2 linked regions of the Homo sapiens genome follow. The protein of the gene in region 2 purifies or fractionates together with the protein of the main gene of each other region. This does not show direct contact. Each region holds a gene or a part of one and is shown on either strand. Other genes may lie near its edges.

Evidence for each region. The genes of interacting proteins can lie anywhere in the genome.
Region 1: the proteins of DBX2 (region 2) and ZC3H4 purify together in Homo sapiens (affinity purification with mass spectrometry; one large-scale study listed by BioGRID and IntAct). This does not show direct contact.

What each region holds. Positions count from the first base shown.
Region 1 is NC_000019.10:47,066,232-47,069,814, forward strand, and holds part of ZC3H4 (zinc finger CCCH domain-containing protein 4), read right to left. Parts: intron 3,113-3,583; coding exon 2,861-3,112; intron 1,639-2,860; coding exon 125-1,638; 3' UTR 1-124. UniProt on the Homo sapiens protein: RNA-binding protein that suppresses transcription of long non-coding RNAs (lncRNAs). LncRNAs are defined as transcripts more than 200 nucleotides that are not translated into protein.
Region 2 is NC_000012.12:45,033,269-45,038,844, reverse strand, and holds part of DBX2 (homeobox protein DBX2), read left to right. Parts: intron 1-2,730; coding exon 2,731-2,826; intron 2,827-3,599; exon of another isoform or gene 3,600-3,802; intron 3,803-5,576.

The DNA.
Region 1 (3,583 bases), on a different chromosome or scaffold from region 2:
AAGAAAAAGAAAAGAAAAAAGGAACACCCAGCCTGCCTCCCCTTGCCCCCAAGTTCCCTACCCTGGGTGCTGCCCTGAATGCCACCCTAGGAAGGGTGGCTGGAGCCGCAGCTCTGGCTGGACACTACTGGCAAAAGGGGGAGGCCGTGGGGTCGAAGCCTTTAAAAACATCCTTCAGGGATGCCGCATCCTGCTCACCCTCGCGGGCCGGACTGTTCCCAGCAAATGGGCTTCCTGAGCCCGTCTTGGGTGTCTGCTTCACCGTCCCGAAGAGGGTGGGCACGGGCAGGTTGTGCACCCCGGGCTGGGGTGGGGCACCCTCGGGGGGTGGGGTGGCGGTGGTGGCAGCGGGGGCTGCAGCAGCCTTGGGCCGGGGCCGGTTGTAGCTGTTGTATCTGTCCGTGGGGGTGCCCCCATCAGCACCGGCCTTCCCTGTCTCTGGCTGTTCCAGGGCAGACTTGCGGACGAACGGGGGCTCCTTAGCCTTGGAGGCCGAGCTCTTGCCATTGCCCTCAGCACCCTTGGGCTGGGCACCCGTGTCAGCAGCCGGCTCTGTGGCTTTGCCCCCCGCGTTGGGAGTCCTCGGGTCGTAGAGGCTGATACCGCTCAGCACACTGCTCTGCCCGCCCCCTCCGCCCTGGCCCAGTCCACCGGCCGCCAGCACGCGGGGGTCGTAGGGAGCGGTGGCTGGTGGGGAGGCATCCCCACTCGGGCTGGCGGTGGGAGAGGGCGCCTCAGCAGGGCCGGGCTTGGCAGCCCGGGAGGAGGCCGTAGAGTCTGTGGGTTTCTGCAGCCGAGGGTCGGTGGGGGCCTTCCGCACCCGGGGGTCACTGGGTTTGTCGCTGGAACCGGGGGCGGCCGAGGAGCCGGTGGCATTGACTGTCTTGAGGATGCGAGACAGAAGTTCAAAGTCGGGGAGGTTGGCGCCCTGTGTGCTGGAATCCGTGGAGGCGCCCGGGCGCTGCCGGGCGTTGGGGGGCCCTGCCGTGGCAGCGCGGTGCAGCCGGGGGTCCAGGGTGGGCATGGATTGCAGGGCCGCGGGCACGGGGGGCACTGCGTCCTGCTTGGGGATGGGTAGGGGGATCAGGTCCTCGGGATTCCAGAGCACGGTGCGGGCGAAGCTGGGCTTGCTCAGGGTCACGTCCTTCTTGATGTGGCTGAACTGCTGCAGCTGTGACCGTGGGTCCCGCAGAGGGTGCCCGGGGAGTGGGTCCAGGGGAATGTTCACGGCCTTCTCCCGCAGGGCCCGCTCCCCTTCCTCCTCCTCCGTTGGGGGCGGCCCAGACCCCTTGGAACTGCTGGGGCCCACAGGGCTGGAATGAAGGCTGCCTTCGGGCTTGGAGGTGGGCAGGGCGCGAGCCAGCCGAGGATCGGAGGGTCCCGAATCACCTGGGCCAGACCCGCCAGAAGCCTCCACATGGCGGGTGAGTCTGGGGTCCCGGCTGAGGCGAGGGTCAGCCAGCCGGCTTCCTGTGGGGTGTCCCTTCTGGAGGCGGGGGTCCCCCAGCCCACTGCTGCTCAGCTCCCCAACTGAAGCCGGGGGTCGGCTGGACGTCTGCTGCCTCAAGGTCTTCAGGATGGAGGTGACACTGCTTCCACCCTCATCCTCATCACTTGAGTACCAGTTTCCGGTGTCACCTGGGAAAGAACAGAGGAGCAGGGAGGGGTGAGTGGGCGCATCCACCACCCGCCCTCTTGGATCCCACAGCAGCCCACCGTGAGCAGCTCCTTTGCTTGTGCCTCTCAGAACCTCAGGTCCTCCTCTCTAAGGCTCCCTCCCCACAGTGGGCGGCTGAGGAGACCCAGAGAGCTAAGGCGCTCGGTTTATGCCATGCTCCCCAGCTCTCCTCAGTGGCGGCACTGCACTAAGTAGTTTGTTTTATTTAAATAACTCACAACCACCCCAGGAGGTAGTGATACTATCATGCCCATTTGACAGATGTGAAAACAGAAGCACAGTGCCGTTACATTGGAGTCAGGGCCAGGATCGGGCTAGGACTCCTAACCCAGAGCTCTGCTGTTTCCTCCCGCCCACCTCCGGGCTGGTTCAGCCCCCACTGTGGCAAGTCCAGCTGTGGGCACCTCTTTCTGGAGGTCCTGGTAGCAGACACCATTGACTCAGTTCTGGCTGGGCCTGGGGCTCAGAGACACTTGACCCCAAACCGGCTCGTGATGTCCCCATGTCCCAGGGAGGGGCTGGTGTGGACCAACCGCAGTCACCAGCTGATAAGAGGCAGGGCCGGCTGGGCAGACTCAGACATGGGCTCAAGCAAAACCTAGGCCAGTACAGCCTGGGCCATCAGGGGAGCGGCCCCTCCTCCTGCTGTCCCACTGGCTCCTGCGCTACAGTCAGGGCCACCTGTGGCCTCTGGCTTCAGGATCTAGACACCACTTGTCATTTTACCCCAAAGTGGACACCACTAAGTCAACCATGCAGCAACTGAGACTCGGTGGCTCGTGACTATGATTATTACTGGTTAATTTCAATGACTAGCTCTTGTTTGTTGGCTCCTTGAGAACACGGTAGGAAAACAGGGGCTGTGAGGGTCTCCCTAAAGCCTCCTCTGGCAGGGCACAGGCGGTCAATCCTGTTGGCCACTGTCTCCTCCAGGAACTAGCCCTCCATCCTACTCCATGGGATCAGGGTCTCTCCTGAACCCAACACAGAAAGCCACCCCTGACTGCCAGTTTTCTCAGGGACATGCAGCAGCCCCAGCCCGGCTTCATGGCCCTGGACAGGGGTCCTCCCTAGCCATGGGCTCCTTCCTGACAGGAAACCCAACCTGGAACACCCCACCACCGCCGCTCCCCTGCACAGCGGCCTGGGGCCTGTGCCCCGGCCCCTGGGGCGGACACGTGCCTTCCTCATTCTCCCGGTCCTGCTTGCTGCTCTCAGCCAGCCTCCTCGCTCTCTCCTCCTCCTCCTGCTGCTTCTGCTGGATCCTCAGGTACAGGGCCCTCTGGGCTGAGGGCAGGAAGTCAGGGACACCGGCGCCTGGCTTCGGCCGGCCTGGGGGCCCTCCCTCAGAGAAGCTGTCGGGCTCCAGAGGGTGCTCAGGGAAGAGGTGCTCCCCAGGCTCCCCTGGCAGCTCTTCGTAGTGCCCGTAGTCCTCTGTGGCAGGGAAGAACCGAGGGTTCATGTCGGGAAGGGCCTCCAGGTGCCAACTCCAGCCCCCCTGCCCCTCACTGCAAACCCACACCGATGGCGATGGAGAAGGACGCACAGCCTGCCCCTGCCTGCCCTCCCCAGGTCTCAGGGGAACAGAGCGGCCCATGGGTAGCCCCGCCTACATGAAGAATGAGGTTCACAGAGAGGGTTGAGTGATGCGGGCAAACGCTTATGAGGTGGAAACAGGATGGAACATTGGATGTACGTTTGTAAGACGCAAGGAGAAAGCTTTGAAAAGACACACAGAAACAGTCCCTCTGGAACACAGATTCTGGAGAGGCCAGGGATTTCTGTACTCTTTCCTGTACTTTTAAATTATTTTGGATGGATAGGAGTTGCACGGTTTCTTTCTAACAATCAGTAAGGAAACACCATGCATCTCATAGTGAACTCGACCATGTTCAACACTAAAAG
Region 2 (5,576 bases):
ATATAATAGACTATTCAATTAAAATGGTTTTTCTGGTTAAATTCAGCATTAAGATCAGATATCTGTAAACCACATTTATCACTAAGAATTTAATTGATCATTTATTTTAAGTAAACCATCCATTTTTAAAATATTTTATTTTCCCACTTTTAGGGCCCTAGGGTTGGGAATTTAATTGATCATTTATTTTAAGTAAACCATCCATTTTTAAAATATTTTATTTTCCCACTTTTAGGGCCCTAGGGTTGGGATGAGAAACATTTTGGTTAGAATAGAAAAATTTGTAATATATATATGTATATATAAGGATGCAATATGTATGCAATATATACACACACACATATTGCATACATATTGCATCCTTATATTAATGATATCAGTAGTATGATCACATTTTCTATGCCCTAATTAAGCAAAAAACAAAACCAAAACCTTTTTTTTTGTTTTCTGTTTCCAGTTAACATGGTAAATGTTTAATTTTATGTCAGCAAATGTAACATTGCTGAGTCTTTTTTTTTCTTTTACCTCAAAAGACAACAACAATAACAACAAAAGTCCAAAACAAAACAGTGCAAGAGCCATCATTTTATTATTTATAGAATGTTTATCTTGGAGGGGAAATAAGTTAGCTAACAGAAATGCTTGAAAATAAACATAATTAGGCAACTTTTATATTTCTTCTTTCTGAAGTACTTCATATATCCATAGCAATAATGAAAATGTAAATCTGCATAAATAATGCCATACTCTTGTAACATACTTTAAGATGTAAAATTCAAATGAAATGATTTATAATTTCCATGACAGTTTTATAGTCAATATAAGAACAACTTATGATAACAATGAAACTTCAAAAAAATTTATAAAACTTTTTGAACATCAGAATTGGTTTCCTTTTTATGCCTTTGCTTAGCGGCCATATTTTCAAAACAGCATTAAAACAAACACTTGATTCTTTAAAAACCCAAGTATTTAAAAAAAACCTAAAAGCATTAATGTTAACAACTTCCCATTGTGTGCTAGGAAGAAAACTGCATTTATGATTAATTTGCAATTTTAAAGCACCCAGGACCCTGAAATGCTATAAAAATTCTTATTGGAAACTATACTTATTTTGATACATCCTTCAAAGAAATTGTGAAAATAAATATAAACAGCTCATCAGTTCGTTAAAATACAAGTCTGAAATTACTGTGTTCTTCAAAAAGGTATGTAGTCATATGGAAACAATATTCACGAATGTGATTAAGAAAAGGAAAGAAGTTGTCCCTTGAATATGAAAGAATAATAATAAAAATATTTATTTTCAAGTCATGTTTTAGATTTCAAGGTCATCAGTTATGAGAGACACCATGTTTTAGGATGGGTCAGGAAGCAGGGGAAGGATTAATTCTTGATCCTCATTCTTTCCCTAAGACCAGGGAAGTTTTCTGTTTGTTCATTTGGAAGACCATTTGTTCATTTACTAAAAAATTTTTTGACTGTTTAGAATGTGCTAGGCACTCTGTTGAATGTGTCATGGTATGGGCAAGTGCCCACTTTAGGCAATCTCCACCTACAGTTATATTGTATTAAACCTATTCTATGAAAGGACATGGTGTGTCTAAGGCACTTAACCAAAGCACAGCATACAGTAAGTGCTCAATAATGGAGAGTTATTATTCATGTTTTATCCTTTATAGCTGTTCTCATCTACTGAGGAAAGAGTTTAACTTAAAATGTTAAATTCAAAGGGGATGATTCATCATTTCTATGATGGTTTTATAGTCAAAATAATAGAACAACTTATACTAATGAGACTTCAAAAAATTTTATAGAAGTTTTTGGCCACCAAAATGGGTCTCTCTTTCATACTTTTGCACAGGAGTAATAATAAATAGTTCATGCATTTCTCCTGAAAACTTTATGAATAGATTATTTTAATAAAACTATGCAGAGCAGAATTACATGGCAACTCACTATACTAGAAACACATATATCTTCAGGGTGACTAGATTACTCTTGAGATAAAATGGGATTATTCTCAAATACTTTAAGTCATGTAAATGTGATCAGAAACACCACTTTTTGTTATGGAATTGCTCAGTAAATTTACTGTTACCAACTTTGGAATCCAACTAACTATATGTTTCAAAGAACCATCTGAAAATAAGCAAAGAGATATAAACTTTAAAAATTAAATGTAAGCACATAACATTTAAATCATTTCTTGGTAAGTAGGATATCTAGAGCTGTGCTATTTAATATAATCCCTAGTCGTATGAGTCTATTTAAATATAAGTGAATTTAGAGTAAATATGCAGTTATTCATTATACTAGCTACATTTTAAGTGTACAGTAGCTGTATGTGGGTAGCAGATACCATTTTGAACAATACAGACATAGACATTTCCAATCATCACAGATAGTTTTCTTGGACAGTGTTGTTCTAGGGTATTTTAAATAAAGGAATATTTGATGTTTACTATTTATAATGATGACCGCACAGAAAATGATCTAAGAAGCTTGGTGTTTCATAGTCTCTTTGCGTCTTTTCACTACCCCTCTCAAATCTTGATGAGATTATTTGGCATGCTCTTTGACAGACAAAGGCTACTTTATAATAACTTTAATTTCAATACAAATTAAAAAACTAAGCAAAGTATTTACTCAATGACTTTTAGGAAACTGGAGTTTTGAATATTGTCTTAAAGAAATGGCTAATCAATGAGATCAATGCTTTCTCTGCAGCACCTTCCAAACCTTTCCTTCTGAGCACCCCGCCATTCTACTCGGCGTGCTGCGGTGGGTCCTGTCGGCGCCCTGCATCCTCCACTGCTTTTCCAAGTAAGTTTTTATCCTTCATCAGCAATGCCTCAGTTATTCTGTAAACCAAAGCTGCAGGATTTAATGTGCTCTGGAAAACTAATTGGTAATGCAATGGCAAGGAGCTAATTCCTCACTAAAAGTCACAGCGATCTTATTCAAGAGGTTTCCAGAGATTTATCAAACCTCAGCACACTGAGCAATTGTGAGCAGTTCTAATGGCATTGAAACCCAGGGCCGACACATCACCGAAAGCAACTTGTTTTCCATTTGATATAAAAGATCTCGGAGGGACCAGTTTGGCTTTTCTGAAATGTGTAGCAACACTCCTTTAAAGAAGAGGAAAAAGGAAAGGAAGGAAGGCGAAAAATTGTGCTGTGTAAAATTTCCATTCCACTTAAAATGTAACACAGAAAGTCACTAAGTGTCTATGGAGAATAATTTAAAATTGTCAAGATCGTGAGAGGAGATAAATCTCTCCTTTTTGGCATCTTGAAGGTAACCAACCAGAACTGTTGGAAATATTTTCAAGAGAACTCTTCTCCCAACATTGTAAAAGCAACATTTTAGTAGAGTCTGGGGGTGGAGTGAGAATGACAGACTTTCAAAATCTCGCAGTGTGCACACACACACTCTCACACTCAAAGGAAAAATGCAGGCATAAAAGTAAAACTCCCCTTGGTCTTGAGATTTCTGGATTAGATGAGAACATCTAGGCAGGGAATTTGAGTTTATGGTAAAGAGGTCCAGTGGAAGGGTGCATTTCTTTCAGTTGCCCAAGAGAAAACACTTACTCAGCTTAACAGCTCTGTCAGGTGAAAAGTGAAATTAAGAGTTGAGTCAGGCTCTTGTGCCGAACCCCATCACGGTTGAATTCAGATCGCTGCTGCCTCTGTGCATGTGTTTTGGGAATGGTTCAGGAAAGCAGTTGCTCGACAGAATAATTCCTGACAAGTGAGGCAGCAAATGCTGGCCGTTTAATGAGCTGCAGGCTCTAAGCATCTCTTTAGGGGGCTGATACTTTCCCACAGAGCACTTTACATGGCTGGGGCCTGGCCACAATGGGTGACAGACCCGTGACCAATCGTCACTTTCACTCGACTCATCCACACGCGACCTCACCACGATTTTTCACTCTGCAGATGAACTTTAGGAACCATTTCACATGGAAAAGGCTTGGGCAAGGGTCAGTTGCCCTTTTGTATGGTCATAAAGCAAGGCTCTGTGTGTCAGTCTTTTCTCCTGTCTCACATTCCAAGTGAATTTCTGGACACCATTTAAAGCACTTGACTGAAAAATAAAGCAGTAAATGAAACTGACTTTTATAGACTCATTCTAGCTCATCTTCCCATATAACCCTGTCTACCTGAAAAGGGATTTAGTGGATGAGCTGAGTGTATACAGGGACTTGCTGAATACATAGGGCCCATTATCAACTGTGGGGATTCTTTATTAACCGGGACTGATACACTACTATTTTGGAAGTGACCTATTAATTGTCCATTTAACTAGAATGTATTGAATTCAAACAGCAAAATAGAAACCATGACTAAACCTTTTACTCGCTCCTTCAAGGTGGTCTCCTGTGAGGGCAATTGAAAACTCTTGTGCAAATTAAGGAGACATTTATCACCATATATTAGAGTATCAGGAAAAGACTTCTGGAGTAGAGACCTAAAACCCAAATATCTGATACCGTATCATGATGGCATCGCTGTGGAATTAAGTCTTCAGTGTTAGATTTCGGGAGTGGAGATCAAAAGAGGTCCCACACTTAGCTTCAGTTATTTCATCATGATATGATACTGGGTTTTTACTTCAGAAAATCTCTGGCAGTCCAGGTAAGTGGAAATGGACAAAAAATTCCATGTAATAGGTGGACAGACATTCATGTGCGTGTGTGTGTGTGTGGGTGTGGGTGTGTGTGTGTACTTATTTTATAGGGACGTTTGAAGAGTCTCAAGCCATCAAAGTTTGGGCCAGTTTACTAGATAGAAAAGAAAGGTTGGGTCAGTTCAGTAAATAGAGCATGTAAAAGTAATGCTAAAGATGTTTTCTAGATGACTTTATCTTCTCTGCTGCTTGAGAAATTACTTTAAGCAGGTCTTATTTTTCTCCATCTGCTTCCCAGTCCTTTCTACTTTGTGCCTTTTGCATAATTCTTGTAAATTATAGTGTTTATCCCTGGAGGTTTATGAAGTCCTGTGTTTATCTTTTTCTTAAAAATAAATATAGAAGCTGAAAATCAGTACAGCTCTAATCAAGGATAGAAAATGATGCACTTGGTTTGGCTTCATTTCTAAAGTTGGCATTTTAAAACAGTTTAGAGATCCCACAGGTGATTTTAATAAATGATAGTTTCTCATATTATTAGTTATAACTCTAAAATGAATTTCATATATTCTTATTTATAATGTTCATTTGTATTAACAGCAAATAATAACATGGTAGAATTAAGCTGTCAATAAAGAATTTTACATAAATAACCAGGATACCAAGGTACAGTTAATAAGGTTTACATCTGTACAATAATCTTCTTTAATTTAAGGCATTTACTAGATTTTCTTTTTTTCTCCTTTTTCTAATAATAAGAATGATTTTTATGCCCAGGTCTTTGTATTATTTAACATTGTACAAGCAAAGGAAAATGTACTGTCCAAATAAACTTGCATTAAGTTTCAGCTCAGACAGCCAAAATTAGGTTTATATTAAAAAGTTTAATAACTGATTAAATCAATGGCCCTCATCATTGTTTCACAATATTGCTTCAC